Linked DNA regions of Homo sapiens. The protein of the gene in region 1 interacts with the protein of each later gene in a pairwise test. Each region holds a gene or a part of one and is shown on either strand. Other genes may lie near its edges.

Evidence for each region. Proteins that work in one complex are often made in the same cells at the same time.
Region 2: the proteins of SEC23B (region 1) and RIN1 interact in binary tests that used the Homo sapiens proteins (3 or more experiments, as listed by UniProt).
Region 3: the proteins of SEC23B (region 1) and CPSF7 interact in binary tests that used the Homo sapiens proteins (3 or more experiments, as listed by UniProt).

The regions. Positions count from the first base shown.
Region 1 is NC_000020.11:18,524,940-18,534,583, reverse strand, and holds part of SEC23B (protein transport protein Sec23B), read right to left. Parts: coding exon 9,564-9,644; intron 8,797-9,563; coding exon 8,652-8,796; intron 8,212-8,651; coding exon 8,053-8,211; intron 7,089-8,052; coding exon 6,973-7,088; intron 3,905-6,972; coding exon 3,781-3,904; intron 1,921-3,780; coding exon 1,840-1,920; intron 1-1,839. UniProt on the Homo sapiens protein: Component of the coat protein complex II (COPII) which promotes the formation of transport vesicles from the endoplasmic reticulum (ER).
Region 2 is NC_000011.10:66,328,419-66,333,434, forward strand, and holds the end of RIN1 (ras and Rab interactor 1), read right to left. Parts: intron 4,992-5,016; coding exon 4,840-4,991; intron 4,335-4,839; coding exon 3,858-4,334; 3' UTR 1,823-3,857; downstream 1-1,822. UniProt on the Homo sapiens protein: Ras effector protein, which may serve as an inhibitory modulator of neuronal plasticity in aversive memory formation. Can affect Ras signaling at different levels. First, by competing with RAF1 protein for binding to activated Ras.
Region 3 is NC_000011.10:61,404,654-61,412,975, reverse strand, and holds part of CPSF7 (cleavage and polyadenylation specificity factor subunit 7), read left to right. Parts: intron 1-1,038; coding exon 1,039-1,207; intron 1,208-1,870; coding exon 1,871-2,033; 3' UTR 2,034-2,038; exon of another isoform or gene 2,039-2,395; intron 2,396-8,271; 3' UTR 8,272-8,322.

The sequences.
Region 1 (9,644 bases):
CCCTTACAGTAGAAAGGCAGTGGGGCAGTTACCACCATCACCAAGCGATCTAACTCAGCACATGTAACACGGGACAGCAGACATAGTGCCTCTGGATGTGACACAAGCATAAAGTACACACTGCCCAGGAACAATGCTTGGCAAAAAGGCTTTGCCTGAATGTAAACACACCTTTAACCCAGACTCTCACTTTACAAAGGCTGTAATATCAAATGCAATGCCAGTTGGGGTAAAAACAGCTACAAAGGGCATTTGGGGGGAAATTAGGAAAAAAATATGAACTAGATATTAGGAAATTATTATTTTCTTAAGTTTGATAATGACATCGTGGTAGGAGAACATCGTTATTTTTAGAAGATGCATACTGACGTGCTTAAGGACTGTCATGATATCTGCAAATTATTTTCAAAGGTCGGCAAAAAAAAAGTTGATAAATCAAATGTGGCAAATAAATGAAAATCAGATAAAGCAAATGTGGCAAACAAGACAACAGAGCAATTATGGCAAAATGTTAACAATCAATGACTAAATGGTAGGTATAGAAATTCATCACTCAGTATGTCTGAAAATTGTATTTTCCTATTCTTTGCATCCTCATTCCCCAAACAAAACTTTCATGGCTGAATTCTACTAGAAATATTAATTAGTTTGTACTAATTCATAAAAATACCTTCTTAAACTACTTCAAGAAGCCTTCAGCAGGCAGATTTTAAGTCCATGAAAAATATTTTATAACAAGGCAGCCTTCCAAAGCCTTGCCAGGAAATAGGGGTACAAGCCCCTTAGTACTCTGGGGGTAATGAATGACTCATCAGATGGGCTTTAGGGCAGCAATCTGCCTCACTCAGAAGGCTACAGGAATGTGCTCTCAAATCACCTTGCCTCTGCCAAGCTCAACAAAAGTTTAATTTATGTGGTCACCCAAGAACGTTTGTTGCTGACAACATGAAAGAAGACCCACACTTCCAGTGTGCCAGGCACTAACTGCTTCACCTGAACCAACTCATTTAAACCTCCTAACAATGCTGTAGAGTGGGCACTGTTATTATCCCCATTTGCCAGATAAGGATACTGAATCACAGAGCAAATAAGTCCTTTGCTCGGGCCAGGTGCGGGGTGTAAACCTGCACCTTGGATCCACATCTGGCTCTATGGTCTACCCTCCCATTGATGGTGACAATGAGGGAAGAACATGACTGTGTAACCCCAGCCCAGGACCACCTTAGAGAGGCCTTGCCAAACCGAATGGTTTGCCTCCTAGCAAGTAAAGTATAATCAGAGGAAGTGGACAATAAGCAAAGCCGCTCATCTCAAATGATAACTAAATTGTTCTCAAAAACTATTACTAGAGAAAACAGATGTCTGCACACACAGCAGTGTCACCCACTTCCACACCAACTCATGGTGGTCTCTGTTGTAAAAGGCTTGTTATTAGCTGAGTGAGACAAACGTATCACCTCTAAGGGCAATGAGCAATAGGCTTACTCTGGAAGGACTGTGCTGAATGTTTGCCTTGTGCTGAACAGCATGCCGTGGCTTTGGCACAACGACCATGGGTGGTGGAGTCAGGGGCACCTGGGCTCTAACTCCTTCATGTCAGTTCTGACCCTGAGCAAGATACTGAACCTTTCTGGGCCTCAGTTTCCTTCTCTCTAACCCTTTGGATGAACAGATGGAATAACACCACCTCTCCGAGTATAGTCATCAGTGAGGGTTAGCCCTTCTCCTGTCACTGCAGACACATCCAACAGGTGACACATGTGAGATCATCATGCTCTGACACTTCTGACGGGTTAAATCCGGGGCAGGAGGTGAGGGTGATGGAGTTGTTTTCCTTACATTTTCTGACACACACGGTCCTTTCACATTCAGAGATACGCATGGACCAATGGCTCCTGCAATCTTCAGTTCCCGAGAGGTCTATAACAAATATGTGACAGTGTAAAGTTAAAGATCACTTCAATCCACCCTGCTGTCATCATGGCCACAATGAAAGCTTAGAGGGAAAATATAACACTACTATTCTGCCAAGAGAAAACTCCACAGGGATCATAACTGCTTAGTCCTACAAACTTTTCCTCAGCCACTGTGATTAGAACTTTAATAAAATCCACCCTTAGAAACACTTGAAACATGAGCATTTTCAACTCTCACAACTTACTTTTTAAACTTGGAAATTACTGTACATGTAGATAACAATTCTAACAATACTACATTCTTTTCCAATCCCTTGTATGAATATATTCACATTCATGTATATCCATAATTATTTGCATATACCTAATCAGAGAACATACTGTTTTGTGTTGCTTTAAAAATACTTAATTCATGAACTCCAATATAACGACAAGGCCAACATACTTAGATTTTTAAAATGTGAATTCATTTCAAAAGTCCATCTTTAAAAGAAAACCCTCAAGCATTTAAGATTATGGTTTAAAGTCTAACCTAGATGATTTAATAATTATCTCTAATTCTCCAAGTAATAATTCCAATCGTATCTTCTAATGACGGCCCCTGACCTGCCCCGCCAACTGGCAACTCTGTTGCCCAGGCTGAGTGCAGTGGCATGATCATAGCTCACTGCAGCCTCAAACTCCTGGGCACATGTGATTTTCCCGCCTCAGCCTCCTGAGTAGCTGGAACCACAGGTGTGCACCACCACACGAGGTTAATTTTTTTTTTTTTAAATCATTTGTAGACACAGGGTCTTGCTATGTTGCCCAGGCTGGTCTGTAATTCCAAAGCTCATGCAATCACCCCACCTTGGCCTCCCAAAGTGCTGGGATTACAGACATGAGCCACCGTGCCTGGCCTAACACCCTCTTTTAATGCTTTCTCAATGACTTAGAATCAGCTGTATCAGGGCCATGAGTCCCTACATGGGAAAAAAAAAATCTCAAAATGCTGTCTTTTTTTTTTTTTTTTTTTGAGACAGTTTCACTCGTTGCCACAGCTGGAGTGCAATGGCAGGATTTTGGCTCACCGCAACCTCCGCCTCCTACGTACAAGCCATTCTCCTGCCTCAGCCTCCCAAGTAGCTGGGGCTACAGGCATGTGCCACCACGCCCGGCTAGTTTTGTATTTTTAGGAGAGATGGGGTTTCTCCCTGTTGGTCAGGCTGGTCTCGAACTCCCAACCTCAGGTGATCCGCCCACCTCGGCCTGCCAAAGTGCTGGGATTACAAGCATGAGCCACCATGCCTGGCCCAGTGCTATTTTAGAGTACTTTGGCTATTCTTCAGGAAGACATTAAACATAACCACGTCTCTGTGCAATGCAGTGAGCCATGCTGATGGCTGGGTGGATGCAGACCACCGTGTGGCTGCCCCTGTCCTCAGGCCACAGTGCTGCTCATAACACCCACCCTACTTCCTCTTCTATCTCCTACTGCCTTGAAGCAGGGTGGAGCAGAGCCTGAGGGTGAACCAGGCAGCTTGTTACTTAGAACATAAATAAATATATAGGTCATCCTCAAGAAGCAAAGGGATAAAGTGAATAACATGCTTTTAATAGCCATTTGGTTGAGATCCTTTTAATTGGCTTTTACATGCCCATGTCCAGCAGGTGGAGGTTGCCAGAAGTCTGGATATTGATTGAAAAAGTAAGAACACTATAATTTCATTGAAGTTTTAAAAGTATGGCCAGGTACAGTGGCTCATGCCTCATAATCCCAGCACTTTAGGACGCTGAGGCGGGAAAATTGCCTGAGACCAGGAGTTTGAGACCAGCCTGGGCAGTACAGTGAGTCCACATAAAAAAAAAAAAAAGTTTACCGTACCTTTACGTCCAAAGTAGCACCAAATGCCATTCGGAAATCTCCATTAAAATCTTTAGTAAAGATTCTTTGGAATGTCTGCTTGAAGAGAGAAGTGTTGAAAGAATCTCCCATTACCATGTAGCCTCTAGGTAAGAAGAAAAAAATCAAGTGAATATTAGGAAGATTGAAAGCCATTCAGATGCTCCCTCAGTATTTACAAAAATAATTTAAAGAAAAAAAGAAACCAGGTCCCCAAAAGAGCCACTGATTAATTTAAATATAAAAAAACAGGCCAGGCACAGTGGCTCACGCCTGTAATCCCAGCACTTTGGGAGGCCAAGGAGGGCGGATCACTTGCGGTCAGGAGTTCAAGACCAGCCTAGCCAACATCGTGAAACCCCATCTCTGCTAAAAACACAAAGATTAGTAGCCACAATCCCAGCTACTCAGGAGGCTGAGGCAGGAGAATCACTTGAACCCAGGAGGCAGAGGTTGCAGCGAACCAAGATCGGACCACTGCACTCCAGCCTGGGCGACAGAGCAAGACTGTTTCTCAAACAAAAAAAAAATTAATAAATAAGTAAATAAATAATAAAATAAATTAAAAAAATAAAAACAGCATGTTAAATTCATACTTGGCAAAGAAACTACTTCTAAAGCATTAAACAGAAGCCTTAAGAACAGCTCTAATTCCTCTCACAGTTCTTTGGTATGGGAAAATACCCAGGCCTGTGGGAAATCCTTTTCAGGTTAATTTACTGCCTCAAAATACTGAATTCTTGACTTTACAAGAATTATGTTTTCCAACTCATGAGTATTAATATTAATCCCTTACTGAAGTTAGAGGAAAACATTGTGCAAAATGTCAGCATTTCATGCATTTGGACAGAAAAGCACAGCTTGACGCAAGTTATGCCTCCAAACGTCATTCATAAAACAAGATCTCAGAATCTTGAAGAACACAAGAAAGATCATCTGGTCCGGCCATCTCAGAGTGCCTGAACCGTCTGTCAGCTCTTTGGCACCAAATATCTACCTCTTCCTTAGTTTCCTGGAACAATGACATTTTCCAGCCTGCCTTGCCTATGGCCATGTGCCTCTGTTGGCATGTGCGTTCTGACTATTGCTGTGTCCTTTATATGTGGAGTGTGTTCCTCCAGGAAGAGCAATCCTTCTCTGACCTTTCCTCCTTCCTGCTGCTGTAAATGGCTAGAGCTCCAGCAACTGTCTTGAGCCACAGATGGCATATGAATGGTGGTAGAGCAGCTTAGTAGGAGCCTCAGCCCGTAATGATGACGAAAGCAACATACCAGCCCCGGACTGCCTACCGCCAGAGAAATAAACTTATTGTGGGTTTTCTGTGACATTCACACAACTCTAATACTAACACTCAACCAAACCCTCTGCAAAATACCTGCCAAGTTACATCCAGACTAGGCTTGAACTCCTCCAGCATTGGGAGCTTCCTCCCCAAGCTGTCCATTCTGTGTTTGAACAGCTCTGTTAAGAAAGGCCCTTCTTGATATTGAGTGAAATTTCATTTGCCAGCAGCTTCCACCCACTGGTTTGGTTCTAGTTCCACTCTTTGGTCACATACAGAACAAATCAGATTCCTTCACAGGGAAGTCCCTCAACTGCTGAATACAGTTCTCACACCCCCATGTGTCTTCAGCTTAATCTTTTCCAGCTACTTCAATCATTCCTCACATGACAGTTTCCAGGACTCTCCACCACTGCTCTTCTTCAAACATCTCCAATTCATCTCCTATTGCCCCTTGAAATTGCAATGTTCAGAACAGAAAACAATGTATTTGGATAAGGTGTGACTAGCACCAAAGAAACCAAGAATATGGTCTTCCCTGAAGATAATCTTCTCCTATAGCACAGCCTGGAATCACCTTGCCTTTGCTGGAAGTCATCCCACACTGTTGGCTCACCTTGAGCTATACTAACACATGTGTGCAACAGATGGTAACTCTTCACAGAAAAAATTCACACAAACTAGCATACAATCTAAGGGATGTTCACAAATACACTAAAGCTTTTCTATGGACATTCCGAGTCAGAACTCCTGGAAGGCCGTGGTAGGAATTCATACTATTAAATGTGGATTACTGAGATAGCTACATCAGTATCATTTGGGACCCTAATTCTATCACCTAACTCATCTGCTGCTCTCTAGGACAACTCCAACTGATTCTGGTTCTACCTTTTATTCCTTTTACTCACTGGGGACCAGCAGCATCACCTGTGGGGTTGTTAGAAATGCAGACTCTCAGGCCCATTCCACAGCTCTATGATGCTTCTCAAACTTCTGTGCATGCAAATCACCTGGGATATTGTTCAAATGCAGGTTCTGATTCAGGTCTAGAGTGAGGCTCAAGATGCTGCATGGTTCTCAAACTCGGCTCTATGTTAGAATCACGGGAGAAACTTTTAAAATGCTGATGCCCAGGCTGCACCTCATGCTAATTAAATTAGAATCTCTGAGGACAAGACCTAAAGAAAGTGTAGCTTTTAAAGTTCCCCTGGTGATAACAATACGTAGGCAGCTGCAGACCAGTGCTCATCAGTGGTTCCTACACTTTCATGTGCCCTAGAATCTCCTAGAGAGCTGCATTCCCGGGGTTTCCGATTCAGGAGGTCTGGGTAAGGCCTAGAAATATACAATTCCAATCAGTTCCCAGGAGCCCCTAAGGCTGCAAATCTGGACACCACCACATGTTGAGAACCACTGCTCCACACTCTGGCCTGTGAATACAATACTGACTCAGGCTTTGAGTCAGTACAACCTCTAGGCTGAGTGCACTTGGAGTTAGTCACAAAGTATGGCCACTTAGCCAGGTTTATCCTAGTTGTTTCAGCATTCAGACCCTGTTTTCCCCAATTCTCAAAAGGAAGTGCCCTGATGAAGGCCAGATAGTCCATGCTGCTTGCTTTCTTGGCCTGGTCTCTGTAAAAGTGTTAACAACTCTAAGGAAGAAATAAGTTACTCTGAAACGACTTATTTGTAGTGAACTCTTGAGCCCTCCTACTAATCACTACTTCCCTCTCCAAGGAGCCCACAGGCCCTCCCCAGTCACTGAAACCATAGCCCAGAGCTACCTGAAAGCTTCTCTGAGTTGGCCTTGCCCATTCCTATGGCTCCATCACTAATTTCTCTTTCCTTAAAATAACACTGTCACTCTGCCCAGGTTTTCACTGTCAACATACCCAGTAAGATTTGCACAACACTTCATCTCCAAAAGTCCAGTTTGATCAAGGGCACAAGCATAAATATCAATGCAGTGACCATTTGCAGCTGTTCGATTAGCAAGCATCTCATAGTGCTGTGAAGAGAGGAAAGCTATCTTTAGGAAACAGTGACATTATTCCCAAGGTATGCCTGAATTACCGAAGGAGGTAATCAAATATAAAAACATGTAAATCATTTTCTTTTCTCTTTTTGTGACAGAGTCTCTCTCTGTTGCCCAGGCTAGAGTGCAGTGGTGCGATCTCCACCTCCCGGGTTCAAGTGATCATCCTGCCTCAGCCTCCCAAGTAGCTGGGATTAAAAGCGTGCGCCACCATCCCCAGCAAATTTTTGTATTTTTATTTTTATTTACTTTTTGAGACAGTCTCACTCCGTCACCCAGGCTGGAGTGCAGTGGCACGATCTCAGCTCACTGCAACCTCTGCCTCCCAGGTTCAACGGATTCTCGTGCCTCAGCCTCCCGAGTAGCTGAAATTACAGGCACATGCCACCATGCCCAGCTAATTTTTGTATTTTTAGTACAGACAGGCGTTTCGCCATGTTGGCAAGACTCGTCTCGAACTCCTGACCTCAAGTGATCCGCCCACCTTGGCATCCCAAAGTGCTGGGACTACAGGCGTGAGTCACCACTCCTGGCTTAAATTTTGTATTTTTAGTAGAGATATGGTTTCACCACGTTGGCTAGGCTGGTCTTGAACTCCTGACCTGAAGTGATCTGCCAGCCTCGGCCTCCCAAAGCGCTGGGATTACAGCCGTGAGCCACCGGGACTGGCCTGGAAATCATTTTCAAAAATATCTGAATAAAATAAAAATATAGTTTTCATTCTCAAAACCCTTTGAGTAGTTTTAAGGCCACCCACTCTAATTAAGGTCTGAAAGTAGGAGCAATAATTTAACAGCAGCTAAGATTGGAAAACTGTCTCTGAAACAGCGTCTTGCTGACCATGACACATGACCTTGGCAAAGTAGCTGTCACTCCAGAGCAGCCCAAACCTGACAATGGGCTTTCAGAATTACAGCCCATACCCAAGAGCACCTACCTTGGTTGCCTTTTTCATGAATCGTGCATTATCTTTCTCAATATCATGCCAAGAACGAATAGGAATCTTTAATTCATCTCCAACCACCATGCCAGGCCCTTGGGTAGGGGGACCTCCAGTAAACAGCATGATCCTGGCTCCTGTGTTTGGAAAAGTGCCCTAAAATAGCGAATGGCAGCATGTTAGAAGTATACAGCCTCACCTTTTAGTATGGTTTCAGTTTCCCAATAGAAATACTCCAAAGATGCATTCTCTCCAGCTGTCCTAAAAAGTGGTGATAATGCAGAATAATACAGATGATAATGCAGAAAAGCAGCACTTGTCTTCTTCCAACCTTATGGGTTTGCACAGTTTTATTAATTCGCTGTTTGAGTGCTCCCTATTGCTCTAATTCTTAGTTTTTCAATGAAAACTTTTGGCATTTTCAAAATGTTGAGGGGCTCCCTCAACGTGAATGATAATGATGCCTCAAATGCTTTCTGATACATTAACACAGACGGTTGACTTAGATCACAAGTGATTTTCAAACAAAGCCAACAAATATATTTTCTGAGAGCACATTTGTATGATTTGAGAGGTCCTGGTAAATTTTAAATTACCTCCAGCAAGCCAACAGCAATGGACAAAGCCACACCAGTGGATCGCAAAGGTCTCTTCCCCTGAGTTACTGGCCATGGGTCCCTCTGTAGCTCCCCAAGAAGATCAGTGAGGTTCATATCAATCTTGTGAACAGGCTGCAGAAATCTGCAAGATTTTAACAGACACATCAACCCAGATTGAATAAAGTACTCTGGTCTTCAACACTAGGTGCCACATAATTACTGCTCTTCAAGATAATTATTCAGAGTAGTAACTGACTGGTAATTTTTTTCTTCAAAGCTATCTCTCTACTAACACAAAACAATTTAAAGCAGTTTTATTGAGGAATATAAAGCCCAGTACTTAGCAATTTACTTATGTTGCACGGAAAAAAAAATTGTCTGGAAAAGGAGCAATTCAGTTTAATTAATTTTTAGACAGCAAAAAAATCCTAAGGACATGCCTAACATGAGTTCAGTCTATGTGAGGTCCATTTATGTGGACAATCTTCATCATTCCTCATCATTCTAATCTGTGCTTCTCTTAAGCCTTGAAAGTAAGAGGTTGTCTTCAGCATGTCGGGCAATGCATTTTATCGAGCTTGTTAGCTCAGTCTAGGCACTCAATGGGCTGAGTCAAGTGAATACCCGGTCATAAGTATGTTTGAGGACACATGAAAGAAGTCTTTTCAGTTTTTCCAGTTTTACTTAAGCATCAAAAAGGACATCAGATGTGGAATGTCTAAAAACAGCAATTGAGCACAGTGGTCTCCAAACCTTTTTGACAAAACACTGAATATTGATTAGGCTTAATCATTTATCTTTTTCTCTAATAATAAGAAAATACAAATTCTAATATTTTTCTTCCCTTACTCCCATGGATCATCTGCATGTCCATCACAATACGTGTAACACTCCATGTTGGGCTCTCACCTGCTTGAAGCAAAAGGGTGCTCCTGTGGTTGTGCAGGTCGTGCTTGCTGCATGGGCATGGCTGGCTTGGTCAGGCCCAAC
Region 2 (5,016 bases), on another chromosome or scaffold:
AGCACTGAGTCCCCTGGGTCCTCCGCCTCAGCAGAGGGGACCCTGCACGTGGCCAGGAATGAGGTGCGCTCTGCCCCCTGGTGGCAGCAATGAAGGATGCGCCACCCTGCAACCCAGGAAAGCGGAGGGACAGTTTAGGCTGCGTCTTTCCGAATCAGTCATTCCACATAGATTCACAAGTGCCAGTTCCGGCCCGGCCATTGTTCAAGGCCCTTGAGATTTAACTGCGAACAAGGTGGGGGTGGCTCTGGCATTCTAGTGAGGGAAACAGACAATAAACTTGCATACAGAACCACCGTGACTTTAGGAGTGATAAGGTCAATGCTTCCAAGTAAGGAAATGACCCGACTGCTCTTTCATAGATCCAAACGTCAGAGTTCCAGTCTTGCCCTGCAGCAGCGGACGCTGGGCCAGGCATGTCACCTCTTGGAGCCTTGGCTTCTTTTTCCATAAGGACAAAGGCTGGGGAAGGGGTGGCATGGAATCCCTAGGACACAGTGAGCTTTCAGTTACCACCCAGATCACGCCATGCAAATGGAGAGATGTGACCTATTTCCCTTTGGCTGGAGCTGGGGGCGCTTGGTGCTTGGTCTATAACAGACACTTCTGTTGTTGTTGTTGTTGTTTGATTTTTTTTTTTGGAGTCTTGCTCTGTCGCCCAGGCTGGAATGCAGTGGTGTGATCTCAGCTCACTGCAACCTCCACCTCCCAGGTTCAAGCAATTCTCCAGTCTCAGCCTCCCAAGTAGCTGGAACTACAGGCGTGAGCCACCTTGCCCAGCTAACTTCTATATTTTTAGTAGAGATGGGGTTTCACCATGTTGGCTAGGCTGGTCTTGAACTCCTGACCTCAGGTGATCTGCCTACCTCGGCCTCCCAGAGTGCTAGGATTACAGGCCTGAGCCACCTTGCCCGGCCTATAACAGATGTTTGATAGATGTGCTGAGTGGACATATAAATCAGCCCCTCTGCTTTGAAGGACTACAGAACCTGGTGTCTGAGCCCTTTGTCCTGTAACAAGGCACTTTCCCTGAGCAAGTCTGAGTTTTCTCATCTGTAAAATGGGGCTAGTGAGACTGGTCTTACACTGGCCTATCATTGTCTGCCTTGCCTGGAGGCTCTGCCCCAGGATCATAATCTTGTTGATGCTGATTTGGCCTGGACCCCTGACCAATCAGTTTCTTTTTTGTTTTCTTTTCATTTCTTTTTTTTTTTTGAGATGGAGTCTTGCTCTGTTGCCCAGGGTGGAGTGCAGTGGTGTGATCTCGGGTCACTGCAACCTCTGCCTCCCGGGTTCAAGTGATTCTCTTGCCTCAGCCTCCCCAGTAGCTGGGACTACAGGTGTGTGCCACGACGCCTGGCTAATTTTTGTATTTTTAGTAGAGACGGGGTTTCACCATGCTGGCCAGGCTGGTCTTGAACTCCTGACCTCAGGTGATCCACCGGCCTCGGCCTCCCAAAGTGTTGGGATTACAGGCGTGAGCCACCAGGCCCAGCCCAGAGTTTCTTGAGAAGAAAAACCACAAGACCCAGGCAGCAGCTCCCTGTGGTGCCCCATCACTGGGGAGGGCAGGGAGGGGGTCAGGTCATGCTGAGCCTGGCAAGGGTGGGAAGGGCTTGTAGAGGCCCCAGAGCCTCATTCCCATGAGGCCAGTTGTACATCCGGCCCCTGGGATCCTCCGAGCACCCTCTACAAACATTCCAGGTCCTTCCTCTGGGACTGAGCTTGACACATCCCGTGTTTGATTCCCAGAACCGAGTCCTCCCTTATACTCCCCAGGTTTCTGCCTCACTGTCCCTCACTCCTGGTTATCAAACTCCAATCAGTGAACAACATTTATTGAACACCTATGGCATTTGTGCTCAGCATTGGACTGTGTGAGGCACTAGGGGTGAGTGGTGAAACAGGGAGGGGAATAGAAGAGCCAACGGGACACTTCCTATCAGCGAGAACCTTGGGAGGGCGTGGAAGTGGGGAGGGAAGAGCTGCTGGTGGCCTAGTGACAAAAAAAATGGGAGCCGTGCAACTGGGCTGTATCTGGACTGCTCATCTGAAAGTCAATGTCTGGCTGGGTGTGGTAGCTCACGCCTGTAATCCCAGTACTTTGGGAGGCCAAGGCGGGCGGATCACCTGAGGTCGGGAGTTTGAGACCAGCCTGGCCAACATGGGGAAACCCCGTCTCTACTAGTAACACAAAAATTAGCCAGGTGTGGTGGTGCACACCTGTAGTCCCAGCTACTCGGGAGGCTGAGGCAGGAGAATCACTTGAACTGGGAGGCGAAGGTTGCTGTGAGCCGAGATGGCACCACTGCACTTTAGCCAGAGCGACAGAGCAAAACTCCATCTCAAACAAACAAACAAACAAAAAAACCCAAAAAGCCAATGTCCACGATTTCTACCTCCCAGTTGTCATGTCTGACATTTGGGCTGACGTCCCCTCTGTGCTCAGTGCCCGAGGAGAGAGCCTCTGGGGTCATCCTCCATAAGGGGACAATTCCTTCCTTCCTGGGGATGGCCCCCAAGAGGCTGGCCTTACCCAGACCCCAGAATCTAAGGGACCTGGGGGCCAGTGGCCTTGGCCCCTGCGCTGTCCCCAGGTTGCCTGATGCTGCTGGACTGCAAGGCCCGGGACCCCCTCTGCTGCTGCAGCCTTGGAGGCGCCCTCACCCCTGGGTGGTCACCCTCTCGGCAGATTCCCGGGCCGTGCACACCCCCTCGTGGTTGGTGGTCGGCACTTTTCCTTGTTTGGATTTGCTGCCTGCTCTGGGCTTCCTTGGGGGCTGCCCCGGCCTTTGTGGGTGGCTTAGAATGGAGGGTGGAGTTGGAACCTGATGCCCTGGTTTGGGCGGGGGAACCCTTAAGGACTTGCTATATGACATCCTGGGAGTCACTTTCCTGACCCTCAGTGGGCCCAACAAGTCATGGCCAAGTAAAGCTTTTGTGAGGGCCAAGAGTTTAGTGCAGAGAGCATGGTTTCTGAGCCCCCTCTCCATTCTGGAAGCTTATCTGCCAGCTGGTGGATCTCCCCAGAGATGCTGGAGGGCCTGGGAGGACTCCAAATCTTGGGGAGAGACTGTAACTTGGGTACTTTCTCCCCAGGGCCTGATTTCCAGGGGAATAACCTCCCTGAACTGGGCATCAGCAGGTGGGAGCCCTGTCTGGCAGAGAGCGGACTCCGGGAGAGAGTTAGCAGCCCAGCTCTCTCCCTCCCTTTCTGCCATGAGCTCTGCTTGTAGCAAAATCACCCATTTTGATCACTGGGACACTTCTGGGAGCCGAGCAGGGCAGCAATAGTGTCCCCACTTTACAGATGAGAGTACTGAGGCTTGCAGGTGCAGGTCCTTCTGGTGTCCAGGACAGGGGTGGGCCCCAAGCCTTTGCTGCTGTTCTGTGGCCTCTCTAAATCCTCCTGACACCTAAGAGCCATTGGAACCTTTTAGGGTCTGGAAGTCCCAGCCTGGTGGGAGATACTTGGGTGGAGCCCTGCCTCAGCCATGCCCATGAGGGGAAGGGTAAAAGGAGCTGAGACCGTCACCCTCCCCACGTCAGAGGTTGGGCATCTGTCGGATTCGCCCCCACTTGGCACACCCTCATTGCAGGCTGGCTCACCCTCAGCTGGGGGAGAAGAACAAGAGGCAAGGGGCCTTGGGCACACAGTCTGGGGGCCCCCGAAGCCCCCTCATCTTTATTCCAGTTCCTCAGATGTGGCAGTTCCCCCAGCTTCCCTGGAAACAAGTATCAGACAAAGGTGGTGGCAGACACAGGACAGGGCCCTGGGTGGGGCTTGCTGGCGCTAAAAGGATTTCTCAGCAGGCTCAGGGTCTCCCGCCCCGAATGACCCTTCTGGCCACTTCAAGCTACTCCTCTGCTGCCCGGCTTCCCTCTGCCTCTGGTTCCCCTGGCTGAGCAGGGCCTTCCTGGGCTTGACCCTGGCCCCCTTCAGCAGTTGTCTCAGACTGTTCCCGAATGTCCCTGGGGCTGGCTTTGACCCCAGCATCCCCATCTCCCTGGCACCCTTGCTCCTCCCCTCTGCTTCTTGCCTCTGACTGCCCACTGCCCTCCTCCTCTGTCACAGCCCCCTGGGTCTCAGGCCACTCCGCCCGGCGGTAGACGAGGTAGCCAGTGGTGGGCAGCCTGTGGGCCAGGGCCCCAGGGGGCAGGCGGTGGTAGCCCTGCTCCTTGTACAGGAAGAGGCCAAAAGTGTTGGGCTGGGTCACTCGGAACTTGGTGGCACAGAGCTGGTTCAGGGTGGCAATCGAGGCTTCTGGGGGCACGGCCAGGGTCTTGGAGGTGCAGCCACTGCTGGGATCCTGATAGGCTACTCGGAGGAGGTGCTATGCAGGAGGAGAAGCAAAAACAAGTACTCAGCCCCGGCTGGCATGCATCTGGCTCCAAAGCTGAGACATCAGCTTTCTGGGCTGTGCAGGGACAGGGTGGGTAGGTGGAGATCCAGTGGGAGAACCAAGCGGCAAAAGCTCTATGTGCTCCAGGGGTCGGCTTGTGGGCCACAGCCGCAGGTGCAAGGACAGCCCAGTGGGGCGCTCACAAGCCTGAGATGAAGATTTGATAGTGAGTAATTTGTGCCCCAAGCACTCTCCTGCATTAACTCATTTAATCTTCACCTCAACCCCAGGAGGTAGGTCCTATTACCCCATTTTACTGATGAGAAAACTGAGGCACGAAGTAGTTAAGTAACTCGCCCAAGTCCCCACAACCCAGTGGCAGAGCCAGGATTAGAACCCAGGATCTGTCTACAGAGTCTGGACTCTTCACCAAGGACAGGAAGGTGAAAGGCGGGGATGGCGTCTGGCTCTGAGGACACGGTGGAGGGCCTGTTACCTGGAAGCAGTGGGTGGCAGGCAGGCGGCGCTGCTCCCAGAGGCTGAGGGAGCGCCGTAGCTCCTGCACGGGGCTCAGTGGGAGGGTGTGGGCCTGACCCAGGCCACTCAGCAGGGCCAGGCTGGCAGAGAGGCTGGTCAGGTAGTAGCCACCTGGGACACAGGGTGGAAGAACACG
Region 3 (8,322 bases), on another chromosome or scaffold:
TCAAAAACAAAATAGTCCTCTATACAAGGACCATCAACCAATAAGACCACCTTTTATAGTTTATATTCCTCCAGAATTTTTTCTATGCATATGACAATTTATATAATTTTTATTGTTTTTACAAAAACAGGATATGGTTTTGAAACTTGCTTGTTTCAATTAGTATATTCTGGACACCTATTATATCAACATATAACATAACATTTATTGATCCTTACTGTGTGCCTGGCACTGTGCTAAGGGCTTTACATGGATTACTTTGTTTACATACAGGTTTACCTCCTGCTTTTTTAATTGTTAATAGTACATTAATAATGTAATATTCTGTAGAACCAATGTTCCTTTATATAGCCAGACCCTATTGAAGATAATATAACAAACAACACTGGCCGGGCGCAGTGGCTCATGCCTGTAATCCCAGCACTTTGGGAGGCCAAGGCGGGCGGATCACAGGGTCAGGAGATCAAGACCATCCTGGCTAACACGGTGAAACTCCGTCTCTATTAATAATACAAAACATTAGCTGGGTGTGGTGGCAGGCGCCTGTAGTCCCAGCTACTCAGGAGGCTGAGGCAGGAGGATGGCGTGAACCTGGGAGGCGGAGCTTGCAGTGAGCCGAGATCACGGCCACTGCACTCCAGCCTGGGCAACAGAGTGAGACTGTCTCAAAAAAAAAAAAAATGAAAAAAAATAAACACTAAAACACTGTTAAACATACACACTTGTGAACAGAAGTAGAAAATTTTTAATAGAATTGCTGGCTCAAAAAATATGCACATTGTTTATTTTAATAGATGTCAAATAGCCCCTGGACAACAGTGTGTCAGTTTGTTCATCTGACAACATCTGTTAAATTCCGAACTGCTGGAATATAGGTGTCATCCAGTTTTACACTTGCAACATCTGCCTTGTCTCTTTTACCGCGGTTGTTTGGGACGGCTAGCTACTCTTGGTTTGTGTCTGCCTGAGTTCTCCTTTTGGTCCAGTTAGTTTACCATCTCTCCTCACCCTTGGCCTTTCTCCTTCATCCTTTATCAGGGGATTACAGTGACGCAATTGAGACGCTGCTCACAGCCATTGCGGTTATCAAACAGTCCCGGGTTGCCAATGATGAGCGTTGCCGTGTCCTCATCTCCTCTCTTAAGGACTGTCTTCATGGCATCGAAGCCAAGTCCTACAGTGTGGGTGCCAGTGGGAGCTCTTCCAGGTGAGTTGGTGATTGTGTCCTCACCTACCAGCCCCAAGCAGCACTCTTCCAGGGATAGGGAGTGGGGACAAATGGAGCCCAGGGAATCTGGGAAAGACCTGGCCGAAAGTCTGGACGTTAGCCTTCATGTCTTTTTGGGGAAGAAACTAATCAGATGCTTTCATTAATAAGTGTTGTAACATCTGGAATCTGGTGGGTGAGGCAGTGGGCTCATGTAGGAAAAAATACAGACAGATATTTTTAAGAACATGGGTTTTGGAGCCCTACAAGCTTGGATTGGAATCCCAGTTCTGCTGCTAACTATCTGTATGACCTTCTTGTGTATGGAAGTTAGTCAACTTTCCAAGCCTTATTTTTCTCATTTTCTAAAAAAGGGACACTGATAGTATTTATCTTACAGACCTGTTGTAAAGATTAGGTCAGATAATCCATACAAAATTATTAGCACTACACCTGATAAATTAGTTCTCAACAGATAAATTTACCTGTTAATCATCTTCCCAAAAAAGAGTAGTCCTCAAAGAGCTAAAATCCTCAGACAGCAGGCCCATGATAGAGTAATAGAGGAATAGTTTAGGCAAATATCAGAAGACACCAAAACACCACATTCTTGGAAAGAAAGTGGTAGGCCTTCTGAGTGAGGCTGAAGGATCTTTCTAATAGGAAAAGACATCGCTCCCGGGAAAGGTCACCTAGCCGGTCCCGGGAGAGCAGCAGGAGGCACCGGGATCTGCTTCATAATGAAGATCGGCATGATGATTATTTCCAAGAAAGGAACCGGGAGCATGAGAGACACCGGGATAGAGAACGGGACCGGCACCACTGAGAAAGGTGGGGAGAAGCCCCGTTCCTGGCTGCTGGGGGATTTTTTATTAAAAAAAGATTTATAGTGAAGAATTCTCTCTCTTTAAAGCAAAAGTAAATGCAGCAAGGGTAGGGGGAACTTCTGATTTACATAACTGGAATTTCAGGGCAGATTTTCTGCACATTTATGGGGAGTCTTACCCTGAGATTCAGCTGTTTCTGCTTGTTTCTTGACTGCCTTAACCTGGTATCTGAGTGAGAGTATGGTGTCTGCATTCAGGTACCAATTTGAATCCCAGTTTCTCCACTAATAATTGGCCATATTACTTTCTGTTCCACAGTTTCATTTGTAAATGAAGATAATAAAAGCAACTGTCCCAGTGACTTGCTAAGTTTTAGTGAGAGAGTCCATGTAGACCATTTAGCACTCATGGTACCTGTCACATAGTAAGTTCTCAATAATTAATAGCCATTGTTATTATCATTATGAACTTTCAATTTAAATTAGGAAAATTGACTAAGAATAGTAAAGCCATTGCCACTTAGTTTTCAAGCTGCAACATTAATGATTTTAAGAATTAGGCTTGGCATGATGGCTCACACCTATGATCCCAGCACTTTGGGAGGCCAAGATGGGAGGATTGTTTGAGCCAGGAGTTCGAGACCAGCCTGGGCAACATAGGGAGACCCTGTCTCTACAAAAAATACAAAAATTAGCCAAGTGTGGTGGTCCCAGCTACTTAGGAGGTGGAGGTGGGAGGGTTGCTTGAGCCTAGGAGGTCGAGGCTGCAGTGATCTGTGATTGCACCACTGCACTCTGGCCTGAGCGACAGTGAGACCTTGTCTGAAAAAAGGTAGGGAGGAGGGGCGGGTGGGTGCCTCATGCCTGTAATCCCATCACTTCAGTAATTTGGGAGGCAGAGGCTAGAGGATCACTTAAGCAGGAGTTTGAGACCAGCCTGAGCAACATAGTGAAACCCTATCTTTTTTTTTTTGAGACAGAGCCTCACTTTGCCGCCCACGCTGGAGTATAGTGGCATGATCTCAGCTCACTGCAACCCCCACTTCCCGGGTTCAAGCTATTCTGCCTCAGCCTCCCCAGCAGCTGGGGCTACAGGCGCGCGTCACCACGCCCGCTAATTTTTCTGTTTTTAGTAGAGGCGGGGCTTTACCATACTGGCCAGGTTGGCCTTGAACTCCTGACTTCGTGATCAGCCCACCTTGGCCTCCCAAAGTGCTAGGATTACAGGCGTGAGCCACCATGCCTGGCCGAGACCCCATCTCTTTAAAAAAAAAAAAACGGTTTATTTAAAAGATTTTGAAAATTAATATGCTTTAGTCAGAGAGGAGAAAGCTGATCTGAAAAATTATCTTTAACAGGTTTAGAGGCTTTGTGGTGGATAATTAACTTCAACGGAAGGGTTTTTTGCTTTTGGAAAAGACTTAGTGACAAGGTTGTTTATTTTGTTGTTGTGTTTTTTGTTTTGTTTTGTTTTGAGACAGAGTCTCACTCTTGCCCAGGCTGGAGTGCAGTGGCGCAATCTCGGCTCACTGCAAACTCCACCTCCCGGGTTCAAGCAATTCTCTGCCTCAGCCTCCCGAGTAGCTGGGATTACAAGCGCCCACCACCACGCCCGGCTAATTTTTGTATTTTCAGTAGAGACGGGGTTTCATCATCTCGGCCAGGCTGGTCTTGAACTCCTGACCTCGTGATCCACCTGACTCGGCCTCCCAAAGTGCTGGGATTACAGGCGTGAGCCACCGCACCCGGCTGTTTTTTTGTTTTGTTTTGTTTTGTTTTTGTTTTTGTTTTTTTAATAGACACATTGTCTCACTCTGTCACCCAGGCTGGAGTGCACTGTCATGAGGCACCATCATGGCTCTGTAACATCAACCTCCTGGGCTCAGGTGATCCTCCTGCCTCAGCCTCCTGAGGGCTAATTTTTAAATTTTTTGTAGAGTCTTGCTTTGTTGCCCAGGCTGGTCTTGAACTCCTGGCCTCAAGTGATCCCCCTGCCTCAGCCTCCCAATGTGCTGTGGGATTATGGGCATGAAGCCACTGCGACTGGCTGTAATTTTCTTTTGAAGCAAAATGAAAGCAGGAAGGTTGGGATAAAAACTCTTAAGTAATGGAGAAGTTCAGTTAAGATTGGTTGGATCCAGGGGCTCTGGCTGTGTCATCCAGACTTTATCTGCATCTCTCAGCTCTGCTTTTCTCTGTTGCTTTCATTCTTAGACAGGCTCCATATTGGTAGGGAGTCAGAGGGGGTGCTGTGTCTTTAGGTTGCATCCTACCAGCTTAGCAATCCCAACTGAAGGAAAACTTCTGGAAAGATTGTTTCTATTATATAAGCATATAGGAGCAGGTGTTGTCTCTGCTTCTATGGAAATCTTTAAAATAGGCCAGAGTGGCTAGGGGTCTGTCTGTAGTTCTTGGAGGCTACTGCGTGACCCAGGTAACTTCAGGGTCCTTTCTTAATTTTGTGGTTGCAGATTTATAAGTCTCTAGGACTTCCCATTTCTCTGTCTCACATCAAGTACATTAGGAAGATGTCCTTGGCCGAGCACGGTGGCTCACACCTGAAATCCCAGCACTTTGGGAGGCCAAGGTGGGTGGATCACGAGGTCAGGAGATTGAGACCGTCCTGGCTAACATGGTGAAACCCCGTCTCTATCCCGACCGAGACCATCCTGGCTAACACGGTGAAACCCCATCTCTACTAAAAATACACACAAAAAAATTAGCCGGGCATGGTGGCAGGTGCCTGTAGTCCCAGCTACTCAGGAGGCTGAGGCAGGAGAATGGCATGAACCCGGGAGGCAGAGCTTGCAGTGAGCCGAGATCGCGCCACTGTACTCCAGCCTGGGCGACAGAGTGAGACTCTGTCTCAAAAAAAAAAAAAAAAAGATGTCCTTGATTATTTGCCTGCTTGATCTAAAGTAATGGTAATTGAAAAGGAAGGTGAGGGGAAAGAATAGTAGTTCTTTTTGGTGTCTTTGGGATGGCGATATCTGGATGAAGAAGGACAAAGAAACTCACCACCTGTGAGCCCCTATAGTTCATGAGCAGTAGCTGGAATGTAAATAGTTGGAAAATTAGCAGTATTTTGCCCAGTGACAACCTACTAAAAACCAAAATACTCCTTTTAGGTTTGGCTACTGCCCTCTGTCTTGTTCTTTGGCCATTAGCTTAAATAGATTTATAGCCAGGAATTGTTTTTATCTTCTCCCAAACAAGTAAGTGGAAAGATGAAAAATTACTAATATTTTTTGTCTCTGTTCTCTGTTGTTAGCCACTCATTTATTCCACAAAATCCTAGAGTGCTTAACATCATTGAAATCTAGGTTAACTCATGTAGAATCAACAGTTAGGCTGTGGGCTCCAGGTACTTCTTTCTAGATTTTGCAACAGGTTGAGTTTGGGGAGATGCCCATGTATCCTCTGGAAAAGCAGACGCTATTGTAGATGGAGACCACAAACAACTTTGGCCTAATTCAGTCTCAGGTGGGCATGAGGGCAGGCATTAGAGTTGGTCTTGGTCCAGTCCTAACTCCCTTTTCTTGTTTGAGTCTGCACAGTTGCTAGTGTTACTTGTGGGTTGAAAAGCACATGTAGGCTACAGTGTATGTCTTTTGGAGCTGACTGGGATAAGAGTGAACAGGAAGGTGATGATTGACCTGTGCAGAGCATGCACTGTCGTCTTTGGGGCTGCATTCAGTTTAGTAGTTAGAACATAAATGCATGTCACCATTCCTGATGGCTTTGCTCCTGACAGCCTTATGACAGGGAAATTACCAGCGAGATCCACTGATCCAGCAGTAGTTTGAGAATTAAACATCTCAACCTGAGTCTTTAGCTGTCACTTTGCATTATTTCTTCCACTTATAAAATGGGGCCAGGCACAGTGGCTCATGCCTGTAACTTCAACACTTTGGGAGGCCGAGAGGGGCAGATCGCTTGAGCTCAGGGACCAGCCTGAGGAACATGGCAAAACACTCGTCTCTACCAGAGATACAAAACTAGCTGGGCATGGTGATGTGCTCCTGTAGTCCCAGCTACTTGGGGGTGCTGAGGCAGGAGGAGTCCCAGCTACTTGGGGGCACTTAGGTGGGAGGATCACTTGAGCCCGGGAGATAGAGGCTGCAGTGAGCCATGTTTGTGCCACTGCACTCCAGCCTGGGCAATAGAGCAAGACCCTGTCTCAAAAAAAATAGTAATAAAAATAAAATAAGATGAGACTATTTCTCCCATTATGAGGATAACTCTCTTTTGGTAACTTTGAAAATGCTGTAACAATATTGCCTAGAAAACAGTCATTTGACTTGTGTAGGCCCATGACAAGATGGGAAAAATTAACTCTGAGGCAGGTTTTCTACTTCCTCACTTTTCCTGGTCACCCGTTTGATATAGTGGTTATTGCATCTGAATAATAGTCTGAAAGAACTGAATCAGGCACCCCAAGAATGTCAATTTCTTACATTCTCACCCTAAGGACTCTTAATTCCATCTGTAGTGACCAAGTTATGGCTTAGGAAGTTTCATGTTGGGAAGATGGTACATGGTCCTCATTTATAGCAACCTTTTAGTTAGAAATGAATCATATTTATATTCTATGATGACAGCTGTTCCCTGAGAGTGAAAGGTACATTTTGTCCAGAGGCAGCAATAGAACAGTAGCCTTCTTTGTCCATCTTTTCTCGGCGTAAGACCCAGTTCTGGGGCCTGAAGGCTAATTGGCCCACTTGAAGGAATCTCTGATTTCTGCCTGCATTCCAACATTGGCACCAAAATGTAGCCATGGAGATTTAAGAATTCAGTGCTATGGCTTGCTTCTCTTGGTGTACAAGTTATCCTCTGCAACCTGTGTCTTCAACTTTTTGTAGTTCTCAACTATGTCAGTTATCTCATTATTTTAGGACATTATCCTACTTGAAATATAGTCATTCTCACGTCATTCCTGTCCTCGTTATCCATTGAAAACTGAGCTTTCTCTTCAATTTGGATCGAATTCAAAGATTCAGAAGCCCTAATGGTATGTAATTGAGTGCACTGAGGGCTTCAGTTTTCCCTTAGAGAAAATGGGACAAATACCAGCCTGCGTAGGTGTTTAGACAGGCCAGGAAGGCTTAGGCCATATAGATTCTGAGGACCCAAGCTGAAAATAGTGTCATTTCGGTGTGTACAAGGATCAGGGAGGACGTAGATGTCTCCTCTAGGTTTTATAAGGCCACTTTACAGAAGTAGTTATATAAAAGGTAAACATTTGTGCGTAGGCTGTGTTGCCAGTTTGGGCATTAGGAGAAATTCTAATTCCTCATTTTCCCTTTGGCTATTAATTCTGTTTAATATGCTCAGACTGACCATACCACCACCCGCAGATGGGTATTGCAGCATTGGAACAGGTGCTGAGTATAGTAGGAACTTTGTTTGGTGGCCATGTGACAGGTGGCTTAATAGACCCTTTTGGGTAAAACTTCTTAACTGCATTTAGGTTTCTTCCATGCTCTGCTTTCTGTTCTGGCCTGGCCACGTGACTCCTGCTTAGTGTTAGTATGTTTCCTGGTTCCTCACCTATGGCTGTCATGCGAGGAAAGACTTAAAATCTCGAGTTTTAGTACACTTGGAAAACCTCTGGGGCTGTGTTTGTGTACACACATACTCATAAAGGCACTTTTAGCCAGGACTCCTTTAAAAAGAAAAAAGAAGGATTTAAGAGTTTCCTGTGTATGTGCATCCTGCCTGCTAGGGCCTCTTGGGTGTTTGGGGATTAATGGATTTGGTTGTGTACATACTTGTTTTCTTACCACTAAACCTCCCATTTCCAGATTTTTCCCCCTCCCCTTAAGGTAAGCTATGACTTGCACAGAATAGACTTCTTAACCTATATTTAAACTCACCTTATTCCCTTTTAGCAACTTTTCTTGAAATATGTCACAGTTTCCATACTTTTGCAGCCAAAGTCTCCTTTTCAGTCGAACGTTCAGAGACCTCATTTTGTTCTGTTTTTTCACCGAATCTTTATAGTGGATGTCACTGCTTTTTTTCTCTCTACTCACAGTAGCTTCTCCTCCAGCCATTCCTCACCACTTCTAGTGTCAGACAGTCCTGCTTTGTTTTCCCAGACTTGCATTCTCTGTCTGCATTCCTTACTTCTTATGTTGTAGCGTTAGAATATGTGTGTTTTATATAAGCCCCTGTCATTCAGAAAGTAACCTCTAACTTGTGTTTTCTTTCTTTTCTTCTGATGTTCTCATTGCAGGAGTCTGGTTGGAAGCAAATGTTTTTTTAATGGACTTGCATCTCCTCACCT